4 separate regions of the Homo sapiens genome follow, and regions 1, 2 and 3 are each linked to region 4. Evidence: fine-mapped expression QTL. A gene starts in region 4. Each other region holds a variant in brackets. All regions are shown on one strand. Distances are from middle to middle.

Region 1 (5,176 bases), 88 kb after region 4:
TACAGGAAACCCCAGGGCCGGGAGTGCAGGGAGCCTCTCGGAGCTGAAGCAGCTCCTGGCTGACAGCCAGCGAGGAAACCAGGAAACCTGGGTCTTGCAACCACAAGGAACTGAATTCTGCCAACGACAAGAATGAGTTTTAAAGCAGATTTTGCCCGGAGCCTCCAGATGGGAACTCAGCCTGGTCCGCAACTTGATTTCAGCCCAGACATGCTGTGCCAGGCTTTTTTATTTATTTATGTAGAGAAGGAGTCTCGCTCTGTTGCCCAGGCTGGAGTGCAGTGGCGTGATCTCGGCTTGCTACGCTACAACCTCTGCCTCCCGGGTTCAAACGATTCTTCTGCCTCAGCCTCCTGAGTAGCTGGGATTACAGGCGCGTGCCACCATGCCCAGCTAATTTTTGTATTTTCAGTAGAGATGGGGTTTCACCATGTTGGCCAGGCTGGTCTCGAATACCTGACCTCAGGTGATCCACCCACCTCAGCCTCCCAAAGTGCTGGGATTACAGGTGTGAGCCACCGCACCCAGCCAGCAGTTTTCTAATTCTATTGTTCCTTCTGTATTTATCAGCTGGAAGTTGGGAAAATAATTTCTTCATCAACTATTTGTTTACTCTGAAATATTACTGCTAAGGAAAAACAGGAAAAAATACCTGATTTTTTCTTTTTACCAATTTTCAAGATGATAACAGATCAAGTAATATTTTTAGAATCATTATAAACTAATGGGTTTTTATTTGTTTAATATGTTTCAATACATCACAGTCAAAATTTTTCTTGATATTCAAATTGTCCCATCTTTGGCCACTAGTATTCCCTTCAAGTTAGCATCTGTATTCTTTTTTTCTTCTTTATTGAGGTATAAAATAAATATAATAAAGTTTTAAAATACATTACCCTGAAATGTAGAAATCATTGAATTTTAATATATATACGCACCCTGCAACCACCACTCAGATCAAGATACAGGATGTTCCCAGCACCAGAGGATTTCCCTGTACTCCTTTTCATTCAGCACCATCCTCTCCAGGGGTAACCACTATTCTGATTTATTGAACTTCATATAAAAGGAATCATTCAGCCAGGTGCAGTGGCTCACACCTGTAATCCCAGCACTTTGGGAGGCCGAGGTGAGTGGATCACCTAAAGTCGGGAGTTTGAGACCAGCCTGGCCAACGTGGTGAAACCCCATCTCTACTAAAGATACAAAAATTAGCCAGGTGAGGTGGCACATCCCTGTAATCCCAGCTACTCGGGAGGCTGAGGCAGGAGAATCACTTGAACCTGGGAGGCGGAGCTCGCAGTGAGCCAAGATCGTGCCACTGCACTCCAGCCTGGGCAACAGAGCGAGACTCTGTCTCAAGAAAAGAAAGGAATCATTTGGTATGCACTCTTTTTGTATCTGGTTTCTTTCATTCAGCATAATGTCTAAGATTCATCCATATTGCTGCATATATCAGTAATTCCTTATTTTTATTGCTGTATAACACTATGCCATATGAATATAGTTTTTAGTTAAATTTTTATTCTTTTTTTCCTTTTTTTTTTTCTTTGTGAGATGGAGTCTCACTCTGTTTCCCCGGCTGGAGTGCAATGGCGCAATCTTAGCTCACTGCAATCTCCGCCTCCCGGGTTCAAGTGATTTTCCTGCCTCAGCCTCCCGAGTAGCTGGGACTACAGGTATGCACCACCACACTCAACTTATTTTTGTATTTTTGGTAGAGATGGGGTTTCACCATGTTGGCCAGGCTGGTCTCAAACTCCTGACCTCAAGTTATCCACCCACTTTGGCCTCCCAAATTGGTCGGAGTATAGGCATGAGCCACTGTGCCTGGCCAGTTTAGTTTTTTGTTTGTTTGCTTTTTGTTTTTTGATTTTTGTTTTTTTTTTTGAGACAGAGTCTTGCTCTGTCGCCCAGGCTGGAGTGCAGTGGTGCGATCTCGGCTCACTGCAAGCTCCGCCTCCTGGGTTCACGCCATCCTCCTGCCTCAGCCTCCCAAGTAGCTGGGACTACAGGCGCCCGCCACCACGCCCGACTAATTTTTTTTTTGTATCTTTAGTAGAGATGGGGTTTCACTATGTTGGCCAGGATGGTCTTGATCTCCTGACCTTGTGATCCACCCGCCTCGGCCTCCCAAAGTGCTGGGATTACACGTGTGAGCAGTTTAGTTTTTATTCTGCTGCTGATAGCTAATTGGGACACTTCTAGCTTTACTATTATGAATAAGGCTGCTCTGAACTTTCTCATACACAAGGCTTACTACTCAAGTGTACTCATTTCTCTTGGATTTATACCTAGGAGTGAAATTGCCAGAGTAAAGGGTA[G/C]GTGTATGTTTAGCTCTGGTAGATCCTGCTAAGCAGTTTTCAAAAGTGGCTGCTTCGGTTAACACTTCAACTAGTAACTGATGAGAGAAAGTTCCAGTTGCTCCCTAACATCATCAACACTTGGTATTCCCCATCCTTTTAATTTTTGAGTTGTTATGTAATGATATTTCATTGCACTTTTAATGTGTGTTTACCTGGTAACTAATGATATAGATCACATTTTCTTATGTCTTTTGGTCATTTGGATATCCTCTTTTTTTTTTTTTTGAGACAGAATCTCGCTCTGTTGCCCAGGCTGGAGTGCAGTGGTGCAATCTCGGCTCACTGCAAGCTCCGTCTCCCGGGTTCACGCCATTCTCCTGCCTCAGCCTCCCAAGTAGCTGGGACTACAGGCGCCGGCCACCACACCCGGCTAATTTTTTGTACATTTAGTAGAGACGGGGTTTCACCATGTTAGCCAGGATGGTCTTGATCTCCTGACCTCGTGATCCACCCGCCTCAGCCTCCCAAAGTGCTGGGATTACAGGCATGAGCCACCGCACCCGGCTATAATCAGAATAATTTATTATGAAAATTAAAATATTCTCAAAATGAGTAAGGAGGATTAACATGTGACATCTAATGAAACATATTGATTTAATCATGTATGGCCTCCAGCTAATTACACACCCACATCTAGCTGTGAGACACACTCTGCTGTTGCCAACTGTCATCTGCACATGTAAGTTTCCAAATTCCATAAGTGAGGTGACTCGAAGTCATAAGAGAAAACTATATTTTGGTTGCCTGATAGTGACTCTCATCTCTGCCTTCCAAGAATCTATGCAGAACTGTGAGGAATCCAGGTTTTGTTTCATCCAGACCCAGGCTTGCCACGAGACATACCTTTAGGCTGCCTGGCATGTATTAATATTCCAGGAAACGGTGCGTTATGCTGGGTTTGGGCCTTTTTTCATTCTATTTCATATACATCTGGCACATATACAAATGTAAATGTCATTTCCATAATAGTTCTTATTGAGCCAGGTGCAGTGGCTTATGCCAGTAATTCCAGCACTTTGAGAGGCCAAGGTGGGAGAATTACTTGAGCCCAGGAGTTTGAGACCAGCCTGAGCAACATGGTGAAACCCCATCTCTACAAAAATAAATAAATTAGCCAGACGTGGTGGCAGGCACCTGCGGTCCCAGCTACTCAGGAGGCTAAGGTGGGAAGATTGATTGAGCCCAGGAGTTTGAGGTTGCAGTGAGCCCAGGAGTTTGAGTGCCGTGATGGCGCCACGGCACCCCAGCCTGGGCGACGACAAGACCCTGTCTCAAACCACCCCCAACCAAAAAAACCCCAAAATAGTTGTTATTCTTTTTTTCCTATATTTTCTGTGAACCCAATAGCAGTGGTTTATGCAATATCTTTCCTAAGTCCTAGTAAGAACAAAACTCCCACAAATTACTGCAAACTAGAACATTTCAAATAAATATTCTATAATAACAAAAATGATACAAGTTGGCCAGACGCCGTGGTTCACGCCTGTAATCCCAGCACTTTGGAGGCCGAGGCAGGCAGATCACCTGAGCTCAGGAGTTCGAGACAAGCCTGGCCAACACGGCAAAACCCCATATCTACTAAAACAAAACAAAACAAAACAAAACAAATACAAAAAATCAACTGGGCGTGGTGGCGCACGCCTGTAGTCCCAGCTACTCAGGAGGCTGAGGCAGGAGAATCACTTGAGCCTGGGAAGTAGAGGTTGCAGTGAGCCGAGATTGTGTCACTGCACTCCAGCCTCGGTGACAAAGTGAGACCCTGTCTCAAAAAAAAAAAAAAAAAAGATACAACTCATAAAACAAAATGATAAATACATTGGCACACACTGTGTCACATAGTAAGGGCTGGATTCCTAAGTTAATGAAGATTATTTAGTTGTCATCTTTATGAACATAAAACATTTCATATAAAAAGGAAATATCTCATTTAATTATCAAACAACCTGTAGGATGGGCACTCCGACCCCTGTTTTTCGCGTCTGAGGCCCGTGCACTGTCCTTCCTCGCTTTGTGTTTCGTTTCCAGGGCCTCTTACCAAGGTGTCTCTCTGGTCCTCGCTGTGAGGTGGGTCTTGGTTTCTCCGGACTGAATACTTCCTTCAGGAAGGGAACTTGTGGGGTCACTAGATGGCGCTCTCCGGCTCCTCTTGCCCGAAGGCGGCGTATTTTGATTGGCTTGTGTACTTCCCGGATCAAAGCACCTCTGGGCATTTTCATAACGACTCTTCTTACTGTTTGGGCTATAAATAGCCAGTGACTCTGCTCCACACAGCGTCCCCAGCCTAAGCCCTGCTTGAAGCCCTGTTTGTCTCCCTCAGGAGACCGAGCCCATCTGTTTCACTCTCTTCCTGAGATCATTCTCAGAAGTAGATTAAGCATGTTTCTTTTTCTCTTTTTAATTTAAACTCTACTTATTCATTTTGTAGAGATGGGGGTCTCACTATGTTGCCCAGGCTGGTCTCAAACTCCTAAACTCAAGTAATCCTCCCACTTCGGCTCCCAAAGTGCAGGGATTAGAGGCGTGAGCCACCCCGCCCGGCCACCTAAGCGGTTTTTAGCCCAGCAGCAGAAACATCTAGCAAATAGGAGCCCCACTAGCCACTCCCTCATTAGAAGATGTAAGGGGCATCTATGGGACATAATCCAATATAGGCACAGAGAACCACAGTTGCTGTTTTTCCTTCGGTTGCTCCTCCCTGGATGGGCCATACAGAATTCTGTCTCCTATAGCAGGAGGCTCACAGGCACCCCGTGGGAGGGAGATCTTCTAGCATGCAGAACACCATTTGACACTTACTAACAGGTGGCAAT
Region 2 (5,176 bases), 39 kb after region 4:
AGGAACAAACTTATCAGAGAGAGATTTAGTACTAAAATTTGGCTTACGCCTCTATATTGATTAGGGAAAATTCCTCCCCTCCCTAAACTTGCTCCCCACCGCAGACAAAGAACACATTCATCCCAAGGTATGGTCAAAAGACAGGAATCGAGGAAAGTTACAGATTCCTCCGATTCGTGTTAAATTAAAAAAATTAAAAACCCCTGGGGAAGTAGAAAAGAGAAAGCAATACCCTATTCCTTTAAAAGTGAGGGTAAATTTAAAACCTACAATTGATAATTGAAGGTCTTCTCTGTGACGGGCTGCTTAAACCCTGTATGTCTCCCTATAACACTCAAATTCTGCCTGTAAAGAAGCCAGATGGGTCATACTGGTTAGTGCAAGAACTTAGAGCTATTAATCAGATAGCCAAACAGACTACCGTTTCTTAGCTGTACAACTGGCCTGCTTTGCAGCTAGGGAAAACCTAGGACACATGGAGTTAAATGCTAGGAGAAGCCAGACCTCATCTGCACTTCTGTCTAGGTCCTAGGCTCTACACCTAGCACATAATTAAAATCCCAAACTTACAAGGTTTTCAACAAAAGTAAAGTTTGCTAAAAGTTAAGTCTAACATGTATGATCCTAACTTCTAATCTTGTGGCCTCAGGCAGTCTAGTCCACAGACATGAAGGCAGTGTGCTTTGGAAAAGAATGGTTATCATCTTTGACATTAAAAAAAAAGGAGAATTAGCCGGGCGCGGTGGCTCAGGCCTGTAATCCCAGCACTTTGGGAGGCCGAGGCGGGTGAAGCATGAGGTCAGGAGATGAGACCATCCTGGCTAACACGGTGAAAGCCCGTCTCTACTAAAAAAATACAAAAAAAAAAAAATTAGCCGGGCGTGGTGGCGGGAGCCTGTAGCCCCAGCTACTCAGGAGGCTGAGGCAGGAGAATGGCATGAACCCGGGAGGCGAGCTTGCAGTGAGCTGAGACTGCGCCACTGCACTCCAGCCTGGGCGACAGAGCGAGACTCCATCTCAAAAAAAAAAAAAAAGGAGAATTTATGTAAAAAGAATCTTATATGGTAAATTCTTGTCCTAAAGTAAATTAACTGGTTGTTTAAAGAAAGGGATATTTACGACAAGTCAGAAAGTTAAGGCATGTCAAAGGTCGTCTGTGAAAGTCGTGAAAAATGTTATAAAAGGGAATTTATGCAAGAAATGTCATATAATTGAAAAGTAATTAGGCCTCCTGAATGTAAAACTATTGAAGAAACAGTTTATGTGCAAGGTGTGTAAGGAAAGTAAAATATACTTTTGGTAAAAGGATTATAAGGAGGCATAAGAATGTGGATTTTTACCTACATTAAAAGGTTAAAAATTGTTTTGAAGGTTTAAGCAAGGTTTGAAAAGTTAATTGTAAAGGAAATTCTGTGTGTAAACATATTGGTTAAAGTTTCTGTAAACTGGACATTAAAATAAAAGCACAACAGGTTTTTCTTAAAGTACTAACCTGTTCTTTAACAAAAATTATAAAGGGTTAAAAAGAGTCTATAAAAAACTTATGGTCAGACATTAAAATTGGATAAATATGTCTAAAAGGTTTTATTAAAATTGAGTTTAACATTAATAGCACACTAATAGAAAGGTGACATTTAGCTGATCTGCTAATTGTCAAATATAAAATGGCATTTGGGTTTCTTTGGTCTAAAAAATTAATAAAAACAGTTGCTAAAGAGAATTCTGAAGGAAAATGGATACTGCCAGACCAGAGAGAAATGTTATCCAAACCCCTTATGAGCGAAATGTTGTTCCAGCTGCGTCAAGGGACCCACTGGGGGCCCCACGCCATGTGTGACGCAGTCCTCAGAGTTTATGGGTGCACAGGAATTTATACCCCGGCCAAACGGGTTACAGACAGTTGCTCAGTATGTAAGAAAACCAATAAACAAACTATAAAAAGATTACCCCTTGGGGGAAGGAGTCCAGGCTTAAGGCCATTCCAAAGTATCCAGATTCATTACACAGAGATGCCTCCAATTGGTCGTCTAAAGTATTTATTAGTAATAATAGATCACCTTACTCGTTGGGTACAAACTATTCCCTTTTCAAGTACAACTGCTAGTAATGTAGTCAAGGCATTAGTTGAAAATATTATACCCAGGTTTAGATTAATAGAAAGCATTGACTCAGATAATAGGACTCATTTCACTGTACATGTCATTAAGAAATTAGCCCAGGTACTGGATATAACATGGGAATATCATACTCCCTGGCACCCACCTTCATCAGGAAGAGTGGAAAGAATGAACCAAACTCTAAAAAAGCCACCTAACCAAATTAGTCTAGAGACTCGGGTGCCATGGACTAGCTGCCATCCCATTGCCCTGCCTAGAATCTGAACTGCCCCTCGGAAAGATGTTCGCTTATCCCCTTACGAAGTGTTGTATAGGTTGCCCTGTTTGCACTCCACTGCTGACATTCCCACAGTCAAAACAAAAGATCAGTTCCTCAGAAATTGTATGTTTGGTTTATCTTCCACTTTCTCGTCCCTCAGAACTATAGGTCTTTCAGCACAGGTACCCCCCCGCTAGAGTTTCCAGTACACCAACATTAGCATGAGGACC[G/A]TGTCCTTGTCAAAAGCTAAAGGGAAGGAAAACTCGAACCCGCTTTCGAAGGACCCTACCTAGTGCTTCTAAGCACCAAGACCGCGGTTCGAACAGCAGAAAGAGGATGGACTCATTACACCTGGGTCCAAAGAGCACCACCCCCTCCAGAATCATGGACAGCTATTCCAGGGCCAACTCCAACCAAGCTAAAGCGAAAATGGGTTTGAACCTCCTATACTGCATCTCTTTCTTTTCCCCTTCTATTGCTAGTCCTCTCTTTACTAGTGTAACTAGGTCAAGTTCACCCCAAACCATTACTTTTGACGCTTGCCTTCTGATGCCCTGTGAAGATTTGTCAAACCAGAGGCAAATCTACACTTTAGAAAAGTATCTTTATCCTTCCTAGCTCTCCTCAGACTGGAAATCTGTTAACTGAGATAAGTTAGTTTGGGAGGACTTTGACAAAGAGTCCAGTATGAACTGGGAATCTTGTCCTCCTAGAGCAGAGCTTCTCTGCCGAAATTTGTCCGATGCTCTATAAAACACCAAAGAGCAAGGACGGACGGCCCCAACTAGTACTTGCAGCTTCTTAAAACCATACATTCATTTTACTAAAGGAGTTTCCCCTCCCCATGGTCAGCTGAACCAATGTAATCCAGCACAGATGACGACTGCTGCTCCCCAGAGTTCTTCCCCTTCATTAGGCCATTTCTGTGGTGTAGGAGAAGTCTCAGGGAAGGACCCCATAGGATCCTTTGAAATGTACTTCATTGCCTCCTCACATCCTGCACCCCCTTCTCCCTCGTCTAAGTTCTCCACTAACCAAACTTTCTCTCATTATATACCCAATGATAAAACCTATGTAGCTACTGTAGAGGTTAAAGATTTAAAACAAACTACAGCAATTGAAACAGGGTATCTGGATGCAAATGCTTGGCTGGAATGGATAAAATATTCTGTTTGCACGCTAAACAAAAGCGACGGTTATGCTTGTGCAACAGGCAGGCCAGATACCCAAACTGTCCCCTTTCCACCTGGGTGGTTCTCTCATGACTGGGCATGAGCTGTGTGGTAGCTCTCTTCCAGAACCCTACAGCCGAGGCGATGAGTCATGCAAGACTCTTTCACTGCTGTTCCCTGAGGTCAAGAGCCTTGTGGGTCAGCCCCCGAGGGCCATGTGGCCTCCAGCCTGATATTAACTTCACCTCGTGCCTTTCACGGCAGACGGAAAAGTTAGCATTCCTTGGAGACTTAACAGGGTGCAGTGAAACCAAGCCTTTTCCAGAGCTTACCCACCAGTCTGCCCTTGTTCATCCTCGAGCAGGTGCGTGGTGGTATTGCGGGGGACTATTGCTGGGTATTCTGCAAGTAATTAGAGCAGCACTTGTGCTCTAGTCCAGTTGGCCATCCCTTCCACCCTAGCATTCTGTCAACATGATAAAAAAGAAAATCATAAAAGAAGTGCCCCACATGGGTCCTTTGACCCCCATGTTTATATAAACGCTACTGGAGTTCCATGAGGAGAACCAGATGAATTTAAATCTCGAGATCAAATAGCTGCAGGATTTAAGTCAATATTTTTACAGGTGACAATTAATAAAAACAAAGACTGGATACATTACATCTATTATAATCAGCAGTGGTTTAGTAATTACACCAGGGATACTGTCAAAGGGATAGCAGAACAATTGGGGCCCACTAGCCAGATGGCTTGGGAAAACAGAATGGTCCTAGATATATTAGCCAAAAAAGGCGGTGTTTGTGTTATGATTGAAACTCAGTGTTGTACCTTAATCCCAAACAACACTACCCCCACTGGGAGCACAACGAGCGCCTTACAAAGACTTACCGCTTTGTCCCATGAACTAGCTAAAATTCTGGAGCCGATAACCCTTTCTCCGGGTGGCTAGAAAGGTGGTTTGGTAAATGGAAAGAACTCAGCCTCAATTCTTACTTCTCTTGCAGCTGTAACAGGTGTACTCATTCTTGGTGGGTGTTGTGTCATACCGTGCATCCGTGGGCTAGTCAAAGACTTACAGATGCAGCACTAACTAAAACCTCCCTTAGCTCTCCTCCACCCTATTCAGATCAGCTTTTTCTTTTAGAGGATAAAGTCGAGCAGCAAAGCCAAGACATGTTAAAAAAAGTTTGAAGAGGAAATAACAAGAAAATTGAAAGGGGGGAAATTGTAGGATAGAATAAATTCCTCTTCGAAGGTTTCAGCCTGTAAATTGTTACGTACAATGAGTCCTGAGATCCTCTCCAAAGAACCAATGTGTCAGTTATGTTCCGCTCCCCTGTTCTTTGTTCTTTAAAGTTTAACATCCTCGTTCTTTACGTCTCCTTGACCCTAGTTTCAGTAAACAACCCCCTCCTAGCCTCTATCACCTGCTCTGATCTTAGTCACCCTTGGTCACCTGCTCTGTTCTTAGTCATCCTGAGCCACTTGTTCTGTAACTGTCCTTCCTCGTACCCCTGCTCTCTTTAAAATAGCCAATCGGAATTAGCTTAGACTGCAGTCCAACCCTAGCCAAAAGGGGAATGACACAGCAGTAGGGGCTACCTGTGTCAGGGATAAGAACACCTTC
Region 3 (5,176 bases), 11 kb before region 4:
CAGCCTCCTGAAGTGCCGGGATTACAGGATTACAGGCTGAGCCACCGTGCCCGTCCTGTTTGTGGTTATAATTTCTCACGGGTGGGATTTCCCTGCACTCTTCCCCGCTCTCTTCAGTGCCAACACTGCTTTCTTTGTGGCCCCTGGAGCAGGGCAGGGGCTTCTCACTCACCCCTATCCTGAGGCTGTGGTCCTAACTTTATGGGATCTTAAGGCAGCATGAGAGAGAGAGGCAAGAAAAGACCCTAAAACTACCCCCCAAACCTATCTGCACACTGTCAGGCCTGGCACCTCCTTCCTTGAATTGCAGCTCATTCTCTACACACAAACTATGGTAGCCTGCAGGCTCTTCGAGTTTTCCTCGCAGGTGTGGGTGTGTTTGTTCCTCAGACCTGGGCTTCCTCCTCTAGGTTATGGCTTCTCTACGGTTGATTTCGGAGGAGTCAGGCCCGTGGTTAGCTAGCTTACTCCAGCATCGATGACAGAAGGCATCTCTACTGTTGGATATGATCGTCAGGCTTATGGGGCCAAAGAGGGGATGTGGGAGCCATTTCCAACTCATCCCACGGGAGGTGGATTTCTTCTTGAGGCATTCTTTTTCTGTCTTGAATCTTCTTTTTCTTTCAGTGTTCTGGCTGACGCAGCTATGGGGAAGAAGGTCTTGCACATTCCATACAGAGATTCTGTTCTGACCAAACTGCTCCAGTCAGCTCTGGGTGGGAACAGCAGAACCGCTTTGGTAAAATAGCTTTTCTTACAACATTTCACACGGATTCTGCTATTATAGTTGTTGTTGCTGTTGTGATTAAATTATTCCCAATACACCTGTCATATAACACAGGACTTTGCATTGACCTAGCCTAGCAATTTTTTTTTTTTTTTTTTTTTTTTAGACGGAGTCTCGCTGTGTCGCCCAGGCTGGAGTGCAGTGGCGCAGTCTCGGCTCACTGCAAGCTCCGCCTCCCAGGTTCAAGCGATTTTCCTGCCACAGCCTCCCGAGTAGCTGGGGCTACAGACGCATGCACCTGGCTATTTTTTTTTCTTTTTAGTAGAGATGGGTTTTCACTGTGTTGGCCAGGCTTGAACTCCTGATCTCAGATGATCCACCTGCCTCGGCCTCTCAAAGTTCTGGGATTACAGGCATGAGCCACTGCACCTGGTCTTGTTTGGTTTCCCCCTCAGGACTAACAAATGATGACCTACCATTATCTTGTAACTTCTGGTACTCTAGTACAATGTTCAAACAATGTTTCTGTATTACTAATTTTTAAATTTATTCTTTTCTGTAGTTTAAGTTCTCTACAAGGAATATATGTTACTTTTATTATCAGGAAAAAAACTAGTACCATTAAAAAAAAAAAAACAACTAGCAATGTCATGTTATTCTAAGTTAGCAGTCATCCCCGGCAAGGCTGGAAATCAGTGTGACTGTGTGTTCACCCTGGAGAGCAGCTGCACCGCGTTATCTCAGCAAAGGCTCTGGAATCCCATTATTGAATGTTTGCCAAGTGGGTACAGTGTGGAATGTGTTAAAATCAGGACTCTGCTCTTCTGCTTCAGCTGCAGGGAGGGACAAAATGGGGTGAACTCTGCCCCCAGCCTGGCGCTGGCCTCCACTCTGCTGTCCTGCTTAGGAGAGAAATGCTCCCTGTCGGGACCAGTTACATGCATTTCTCTCCAAAATCCACAGTAAAACACAACCTTACTCTTTATCACTCAATCCTGACCAGTTTCAATACTTCATTTTAAAGTTTTTCTGGTTGTCAGTTACCTGTGGGCCTCAACAGGACATCTCCCCAAAAACCTGGGACACAAGAAGGCCTGTAAGATGCTCTTTGAACGTTAACCTACAACATTCAACCTAGCGGGTCTCAGCAGATGTGTGCCAAGCCACCGAGACGCCCAGACCTGCAAGACTTGACAGGGGCTGCCTGAGGGCAGTGCAGTGCTTTCACAAAGGAGCGTGCTTGGGAGAGGCCGAGGGTGGGTATCCATCATCTCAGGAACCCACAAGCTTTAACAAAGGAGTGTGCTCAGGAGTGGCCGAGGGTGGCATCCATCATCTCAGGAACCCGCAAGCTTTAACAAAGGAGCAGGCTGGGGAGAGGCAGAGGGTGGCATCCATTATCTCAAGAAGCAAAGAGAACAGAGAACCTGCAAGGCCGACAGCCAAGCTCTCCAGTCTCTATGGCGCCAATCCCAGTTTTAACACAAATGTCTTACAGCCTTAATTTTTAGTGGTGATAAAAATCCACCTGAAAATATTGCCATGATGATTAAATGAGATGGCGTAACCGAACAAGCTTTAAAAGCTGTGAAGTTAGACAAATGTAAATAATTACTTCCTGGGCTCCCAGAGCTCTGGGTCCC[G/A]GGCCTCCCAGCCCACAGAGGATGTGCTGCCACATGGCAGCTGCCACAGCCACCCTCAGCCACCCTCCCCAGCCATCCTCAGTGACCTGCCCACCCAATCATCACTAAGTTTGCTTCTGAGTTGAAAACTTTTCTGAATTCTGGAACAATCAATCCAAAGTCAAGGCCAGGCACAATGGCTCATACCTGTAATCCCAGCAATTTGGGAGACTGAGGTGGGCATATCCCTTGAGCCCAGGAGTTCAACGCCAGCCTGGGCAACACAGAGAGACCCTGTCTCTACAAAAAACACAAAAATTAGCCGAGTGTGGTGGTGCATGCCTGTAGTCCCAGCTACTCTGGAGGCTGAGGCAGGAGGACCACCTGAGCCCAGGAAGTCAAGGCTGCGAGCCATGATTGCTCCACCACACTCCAGCCAGGGTGACAGAGTGAGACCCTGTCTCAAAAAAATGTAAGTATAAATAAAGTCAACAGCCAGGCTTGAAACCATACAAGTGGCTGTCACAAAACGAGCAAGGTCTCTGTGAGACTAACATTCAACCGTCACTCAGGCCCCTGAGGGAGTCCACGGAGGACTCAGTCCCAAGGGCGGTCAGTCTCACAGCTGGCAGCACAGGTATGAGTTAGGCAGGGGTGGGTTCGAGCCCCAGCTCAGCAAGTGGCCTCAGGCATTCCTCTAAGCCACCATTTCTAAACTGTAAATTTGGAACAATATCATAAATTACAAGATGCCAAACTGCCCTGTGAATACGAGCTGCTTTAATAACAATAAACTCCTCTATAAGTAACAAAGTCTGAAAGGGCTGTTTTCACAGATCGCAGCCGTAAGTCCAGCTGACATCTGCTATGAGGAAACTCTATCAACATTGAGATATGCGGAAAGGTACGTCTGTGAATATTTATCATCCATGGTGGTTCTACGTTCTAAATCTAGCAAAGTCTGTCAGTGCTCTTAGACTGCAGGGGTTGCCATTGGGAAGGGGGTCCAGGAGGAAAACAAAACGACCTGAGAGAGAGGAATGAAAGGAACTAAAACACGAGGGAAAGAATGGAGACCCGGAGCCTCAGGGCAGGGCTGTGTCACTGGGTCCTGGATGGGAGCAGAACTGGGGGCTCAGGGATGGGGGCGGCACGGATGCTGGTCCTGATGTGATTGGTTTGATCTGTCCCTGTATTTTCCTGCCGAATAGCACGGCTATTCACAGCTTTCTCCTTTTGTCACACAGGGCGTGGTGCCAGACAAGGGGATTTTTGTGCTAATGACAAATGAAGATGAGCTCTGTAAGCGACAGCGCCTCGGTCAGAGCCACTCGCTGGGCAGCCCTGCAGCCCCTGCACAGACCAGCTCTCCACACTGTCAGTTACCGCACTTCCCAGGGTCCACTCTGCACACTGCAGTCTGTGGAGGTGGCCTGATGGCCGCAGGAGTCACCAGGGAGGGAGGGGCTGTCACTGCCAGGTTCCTTCCCACCCACCTGGCTGGGAGACAGGTCCACTTGGTCAGCACTACGGGAGGCTGTCACCAAGCCGAGTTCCTGCTCCTCGGCCTCTGCAGCTCGTACCAAGTCTGCTCTCCTGAACCTTCTAAGAAAGGGAGGTGTGGGGAGAGGAGAGTCTGTGGCCATGGTAGGACCGTCCCCACATGCTGCCTACCCCTCCTTAGGCGAAGGCCGGCCTTGGGAATCCACCAGCCCAGCTCCCCACCGAGTCCGGGCAGGAGACTGGGACTGTCAGGCCTGGTTCTGGGCAGCTGGAGTTGGCATGTGAGGTGAAACTTACTTGCCAGCCCTGATATGTCATTCACCAGGTCTATGGGCTTAGAGGTCAGACAGAGTCTGGCCCTAGCAGCTGTGACCACGGGCAAGAAATAGAACCTCTCCCCTATCACCTGTTACACTGAGCCAGCATTCCTCATTCACAGCGCTGGGGAGAGGACCACAGGAGGTCATGTGTGAACTGTGCCTAGCAGAGTTCTGCCTGGTGTGTGAGTGAGGCTTGGGAACTGTGGTTATGACTGTGCCACCCAGGAGCTGCCTCCCGTTCTGGTCTTTTCTCTGGCCCTCTTCTCAGCACAGCAACACTTGCATGTTGGTGACAAATGTCTTCCTTCTCATTCCTCACTGCACAGCCTCGGTATTGTGGCACACCATGAGGCATTTTCTTCCAGCATCTGACACAAGCTCAGGTTTTATGTTTATTTTCTGAGATAGGGTGTCACCCTGTCACCCAGCTTGGGGTACAGTGGCACAATCATGGCTCATGGCATCCTCAACCTCCCAGACTCAAGTGATCCTCCCTCCTCGGCCTCCCAAAGTACCAGGATTACAGGTGTGAGCCACCATGCCCAGCCCAAGCTCAGAGCTTTAGATCGAATTTTGCCTTAAGCAGTATCCAGAACGTTTGTTTTCTCCCTGCTTATCAGATGCAAATCTGTTGCTCCCAGTTTTTACACAAGAGACCATGTGATACAGAGGAAAGAGAAAATGGTGCCCGCGGCCCGTGGGACTTGTAAACTCTGATTCCATCTCCCCTGTGTAAAACGAAAGGGGTACAGTTACCAGATTTAGCAAATAAAAATACAAGGTGCTTGGTTACATTGAAATTTCAGAGAACAAGGCATGTTTTACTGTATATCCCATGCACTATTTGGGGGCATCTGTTTTCTCTGACGACATCGGAAGGAGTGACCTAGAACACCTCTGAGGCTCCTCCCAGCCTGGCGCAGGCGCAGAGCTGAGCCTCCGGACAGCCTCCAGGCCAGGAGTTAATTTCAGCAGCCACAGGGATTGGGCAGGTTCTTAGGTTA
Region 4 (5,176 bases):
GTGCAGTGCTGGTTTGCTTCCTGGGCTCCAACCCTGGGAGAAAAGGGAAAGCTGGTTTCTAGATTCTGTGTAATAATTCTTCACAAACAGATATAAGTAGAGCAGGCCAGGAAACGAAGGGGGCTGAACGAACAAGCCCACCGGGGGTGGCCCAAACATAAGCGCATCCCTGGATCTCTCCTGGTGCTTGGAGCCCTGACCCACCGGACTACAGAAAGCCCAGACTGTGGAGTGACCCCAAGGGCTCCCTCAGGAGGCCCCGCAGGAGCCCTGGGAAACCCCATGCCGGGCCTCACCCAGTCAAGAGCTGTCCCCAGCTCTGTGGCTGCCCTGCCTGGGAGGCTGCTGCTGGAGTGTCCTCCTCCTGCTTCCAGCTCTCCAGCTGGGAAGCACCATCACCTACATCCTTCAGACAGATCACCCCCTGCCCCCGTACGAAAGCCCACGGGCCGTCGTGGCTGGAGGGGTGCTGACCCAGGGGCCGGCTGGCCCCGCCTCGTCCTGCACTGCCAGCCTCCTTCTTGGGACATCTTCCTGGGGATCCCCCTCAAGTCCCTTTCCAGAACACGTCCTTAGTCCAACGCACAGGTGCGTAAATGTCTGAACTCCAGTGATGAGGCCGCAACCTTTCCCACAGGATCCCTGGGCCCCATGCAAAAAAGGGTTTGGATGCACACGGGTCTCCACATCCAGAACATTCCATGATGGCCAAGGAGTGCAGGAACATGGAACATGCTAAGGCAGGGAGCCAGTCATTCAGGACACACAGATGACATCGGTGCAGGGGAGCAGGGCGGGGAGAGGGGATGCCAACCTGACACCCCGACGTCCAGCCCCAAATCCTATAAGGTCTGAATTTATACGGCGAGGGCGCAGAAACAGATCAAAACGTACCCGGAGTAGGTGAGGCTCGTTAAGAGTCGCCTCCTGAGCGTCTCTTCTGAAGCTTGCTTGCTGCCATCTTCCCACCACCCCATCCCGCTGGCCTGGGAGCGGGAGGACTCCAGTGTGGCCTTGGCCGGCTCCCCGCAGTGCTAGGCCCTCAGCTGGTGTTCGTTCTGTTAATGAAGCCCTTGCCTGCTGTCTCCCAGCTCCCCGTGCTCCCCAAGGGCAGGGTCCTTCTGCGCCCGCTGCTGTCCCCATGCATCATGGGCCACAGCACACAGGAGGCCCCGAGATGCCACCTGCCATCCTCCGCAGCTGTAGACCTTCCCTCCTGTGCACATGAGAAAGGTCAGCCTACCTGCTCACGGAAACCGCCGTTTGCTGGGTGTCTTTGACTCTCATCTTCTTAGAATTTCAGATAAACACGCTTCCTTCACAAATGCCGACGGTAAAGTGACGGTCACTCCACATAGCAAATGCAAGGTTGCCGTTAACGGGGTGCCCATCACCACCAGGACAAAGCTGCAGCATTTGGTAAACTTTCCTGCAGGCTCACAGAATGTCCTAGGTCCCCCCCAAGAGCTGGGAGGGGACAGTCATGTGAGGTGCCCACATCACAGACGTGGCAGGATGGGGCGTTCACACCAGCTCCTCTGCCACCATGGCTTGGGGACAACATGGCACCACTGCTGGAGGGACAGGCCTGCTCCTGACTCACTGTGTGGTCTTGGGCAAGTCACTTCACTCCTCTGACCTCACCTGGAAAACAAGGAGGGCTGAACTAGGTGTTCTCCAAGGTCCCTTCCAGCTCTAACATTTTGTGCCATTTTAGATTTTTCTAAGAGCCTGTCACTGAGAGGGGTTGAACAGCATCTTGCAAACATCGCTGCCTCTTCCTCCCCAATCTGCCAACCCTGGGGCCCCTGCCAGCTTCCCAGCAGCCCTCTCCCCTCCCTGGTGGCCACAGCCTTTCAGACAGGACAGGCAGATGGGGATTGGCCGCTCCCCATTTGGAAAGCCCCCTCAGTGACCTCCCTCGGCCTCCTGTCCCTGGCCACACTGCCCTTCTTTTGGTTGTTCAGCAGCCGTCTCTGCCTCACCAAGACTTACCGCCCAGGAGGGCTTAGCTTGGGCATCACGCCTCGGAAAAGGCCGTCTGTAGCCTGTAGTCTGAGTTAGGTCCTGGTGTCCCCTGCAGCCATTGCTGCACTCACCCAGACCAGCCTGGAAAGCGTGGAGGGAGGGCCTGGCTCTGGGTGGTCCCCACAGAACCCCAGGGCCAAGGGAGTCACGCCCTCAATGTGTGCAATGAAGGTGAACGCAGGAGCCAGAGGCCACCTCCCTCCTGTCTGCGTCTCTCCCTGTCTGGGGGATTCCTGAGGGGAGGACATTCCTCAGATCCTTCTCACTGGGGAGGTTCACCTCACCCTCCTTGGCCTCGAACCCCTCCTGAGCCCACCGTCTCCTCCCCAGGACCGCCTGATTTTGGGATCCAACAGCACCTACCTGTACGTGGGGTTTCCTTCGGAGTGGGGCAGTGAGGACCTGAGCAGGTTCGATTACGACTTCTTCCAGCTGGAGAGGGCGGCTGCGGAGGGAGCGAGTGCAGACAAACTCGGTGAGCCCCCTCCTGACTGCTGGCCTCTCCCGTGTGCTGATCTGAGAGCAGCGATTTCACACTGTGTCTCTCTGCTTTCCTTAAGAACATCATCATTTGTTTTGTCAAAGTCTGATGTTTACAAAATTGAATTATGATTTCCATATAGAGTGACTACATGGTAAACATTCAACTCGTTAAACGTTCCCTGAGGAATGAGGGTAAAGATGGTTCAAAGGGGTAGAGAAGAGAGTGGGGTACCCAGCAAATGAGAGAAGAATGCTGAGCTGGAGAAGCCAGTTAGTGGCCTCCGGCCGCCCCCAGGGGCCTGCTGGGCCTGCAGAAGCAGTGGCCCAACTCCAGAGGGGCCGGCTGGGGCCTGCTGTGGGCTGCAAATGCGCGGCCCGGAAGAACGTGCAGCCCGAGGCCTCTGAGACAGAATCTCCCCTCCTCGCCCGAACGCAGCCCCCAGCAGTAGCCCACGCGGGCCGCCCGCCGCTGCCGGTCTCTGCTGGGGCTTTCGCGCGCCTTCCCCGCCCCTCTCCCCGCCCCGATTCACCGCGCTCCGGGCGGCTCCCCCAGAATCCTGGCCAGGCCGGAGCCCGCTGCGATCTGAGTGACCTGCGGGCTTCCCGGAGGGGCCCCACGCTTTGCTCGGCACCGGGACTCTGCCTGAACTCGCAGTAATGAAACCGCTGGTGGAAAGTGGGCAGATCCACCTGTGTGTGTGCAAGAGCTCCTCCCTGTCCCCACACCACAGTGTTTCTCTCAGAATTTCAGCAAAATAAATCGATTAGAAATTCACCTCCTTGCTCTTCTTCTGCTGAAGTTTTCGACTTTTAAAAATGAACAAGGCCGGGCGCGGTGGCTCACGCCTGTAATCCCAGCCCTTTGAGAGGCCGAGGCGGGCAGATCACGAGGTCAGGAGATCGAGACCATCCTGGCTAACACAGTGAAACCCCGTCTCTACTAAAAATACAAAAAAGTAGCCGGATGTGATGGCACACACCTGTAGTCCCAGCTACTCAGGAGGCTGAGGCAGGAGAATTGCCTGAACCTGGGAGGAGGAGGTTGCAGTGAGCTGAGATCGTGCCACAGCACTCCAGCCTGGGTGACAGAGCGAGACTCCATTTCAAAACAAAACAAAACAAAACAAAACAACGAACCAGTAAGACTCTGTCATACCAGGCCCGGAAAAGCCATCTGTTCATTGACCTGTCCTCAGAGGTTGACCGTGCCACTGCCCCTGTGGCCCTGGTGGCGCCATGAAGCTGAACCAGCCCCAGACCCTGGCTCGGACCCTAGGGAAGACTTGGGTCCCCAACAAGGCAGCAGCTGTGTGAGCAGTTTGGGGTCAGACCTCAGGGCCAAGGGCACTGTGTGCACCCACAGGCCAGGGGTCTCTAAGAGTTGAGATTTCCTGATTAGAGGCAGTACCAGCCTGGGTTTGGGAGGGAGATTGATCCTCCCATAATCTCCACGAGCCCCTCCTTCAAGCCACCCCAAGTATAAGAGAAGCACAGGTCACTTGCTGTGCCAGCAGCAGCTTGAGGATACCTCCAGGCCTTCCGTCTAGCCAGCCATGTTTCACCTCGCCCCACCCTCCTCCAGTCTGGAGCCACCTTGGGTCAAGGACCCTGAGACCAAGAATGGGAACTGGGGGCAGAGGACCTCCTGCCTGCGGCCAGGATTCATGGGTCGAGATAAGCAACCACGTAAGGAGAAGCCAGGCAGTGTCATTTTCCCTTGTTTGTTTTTAAATTACATGCTTGTAATTTTAAAATGTAGATATTTGATGAACAGCTGAACAAATGAATGAACAAATAAGCATACACATTTATTCATGGCGGCTGGGCGTGGTGTCTCATGCCTGTAATCCTAGCACTTTGAGAGGCCAAGGCAGGAGGATCGCTTGAACCTGGGAGTTCAAGACCAGCCTGGGAAACAAAGTGAGACCTCATCTCTACAAAATATTTTAAAAATTAGCCAGGCATGGTGGCTTGCACCCGTAGTCCCAGGTACTCAGCAGGCTGAGATGGGAGGATTGCTTGAGTCTGGGAGGTGGAGGCTGCAATGAGCAGAGATCATGCCACTGAACGCTAGCCTGGACGACAGAGCAAGACAGCTGTCTAAAAAAAAAAGAAAAAGGGCTTGGCATGGTGGCTCATGCCTGTACGCCTGTAATTCCAGCACTTTTGGAGGCCGAGGTGGGCAGATCACCTGAGGTCAGGAGTTCGAGACCAGCCTGGCCAACATAGTGAAACCCCATCTCTACTAAAAATACAAAAATTAGCCGGGTGTGGTAGTGCGCACCTGTAATCCCAGCTACTCAGGAGGCTGAGGCAGGAGAATTGCTTCAACTTGGGAGGCAGAGGTTGCAGCGAGCCGAGATGGCGCCACTGCACTCCAGCCTGGGCAACGAGAGTGAAACTCTATTTCAAAAAAAAAAAAAAAAAAAAATTCTTCATGGCGGAACAAGTGACTGACTTTCGCCTCCACTGTGATTGTTGCCAGGTGCTGCGGACGGTGGAGACGGCAAGGCGGGCCCCAGTGTCCTGGCTGCGTTCCAGGACTACATCAAACTGATGCCGCTGGTTCAGAAGCAAATCAAATGAGTGAAGAGCCAAAGAAGGTAAGTTAGCTGGAGCCAGGAGCTGGTGTGCCAGGTGCAGAAAGGACCTCAAGGCCTTGTGG

Alleles and levels. Alleles are on the strand shown, and positions count from the first base shown. SD is a standard deviation of normalised expression in the study named. Not every link is listed here.
For the expression in esophagus muscle of the gene that starts at base 2,473 in region 4, G is the high allele of the variant in region 2 and A is the other (moderate effect, 0.74 SD a copy in GTEx).

Evidence for each region. PIP is the estimated chance that this variant, and not a neighbour inherited with it, causes the effect.
Region 1: its variant is fine-mapped to the expression of LINC01341 in esophagus muscle (GTEx, PIP 0.99).
Region 2: its variant is fine-mapped to the expression of LINC01341 in esophagus muscle (GTEx, PIP above 0.99). The same link has a PIP of 0.9 or more in fibroblasts, left ventricle, testis and tibial nerve.
Region 3: its variant is fine-mapped to the expression of LINC01341 in esophagus muscle (GTEx, PIP 0.91).

Annotation. Positions count from the first base shown.
Region 1 is chr1:246,698,665-246,703,840 of GRCh38, reverse strand. No RefSeq gene overlaps it. Among named protein-coding and RNA genes, the nearest start is that of SCCPDH, 23 kb to the left of the region's middle. RefSeq lists an enhancer at 4,361-4,790. The variant G/C (reference allele first, on the strand shown) is at 2,325.
Region 2 is chr1:246,747,635-246,752,810 of GRCh38, reverse strand. The region is part of intron 5 of SCCPDH (saccharopine dehydrogenase (putative)); the gene reads right to left. Among named protein-coding and RNA genes, the nearest start is that of SCCPDH, 26 kb to the right of the region's middle. The variant G/A (reference allele first, on the strand shown) is at 2,607.
Region 3 is chr1:246,797,781-246,802,956 of GRCh38, reverse strand. No RefSeq gene overlaps it. Among named protein-coding and RNA genes, the nearest start is that of LINC01341, 11 kb to the right of the region's middle. The variant G/A (reference allele first, on the strand shown) is at 2,371.
Region 4 is chr1:246,786,914-246,792,089 of GRCh38, reverse strand. LINC01341 (long intergenic non-protein coding RNA 1341) reads right to left here and starts at 2,473. Exons shown (of 2, transcript NR_015422.1): 1 at 2,392-2,473; 2 at 604-1,644. RefSeq lists a silencer at 3,153-3,232.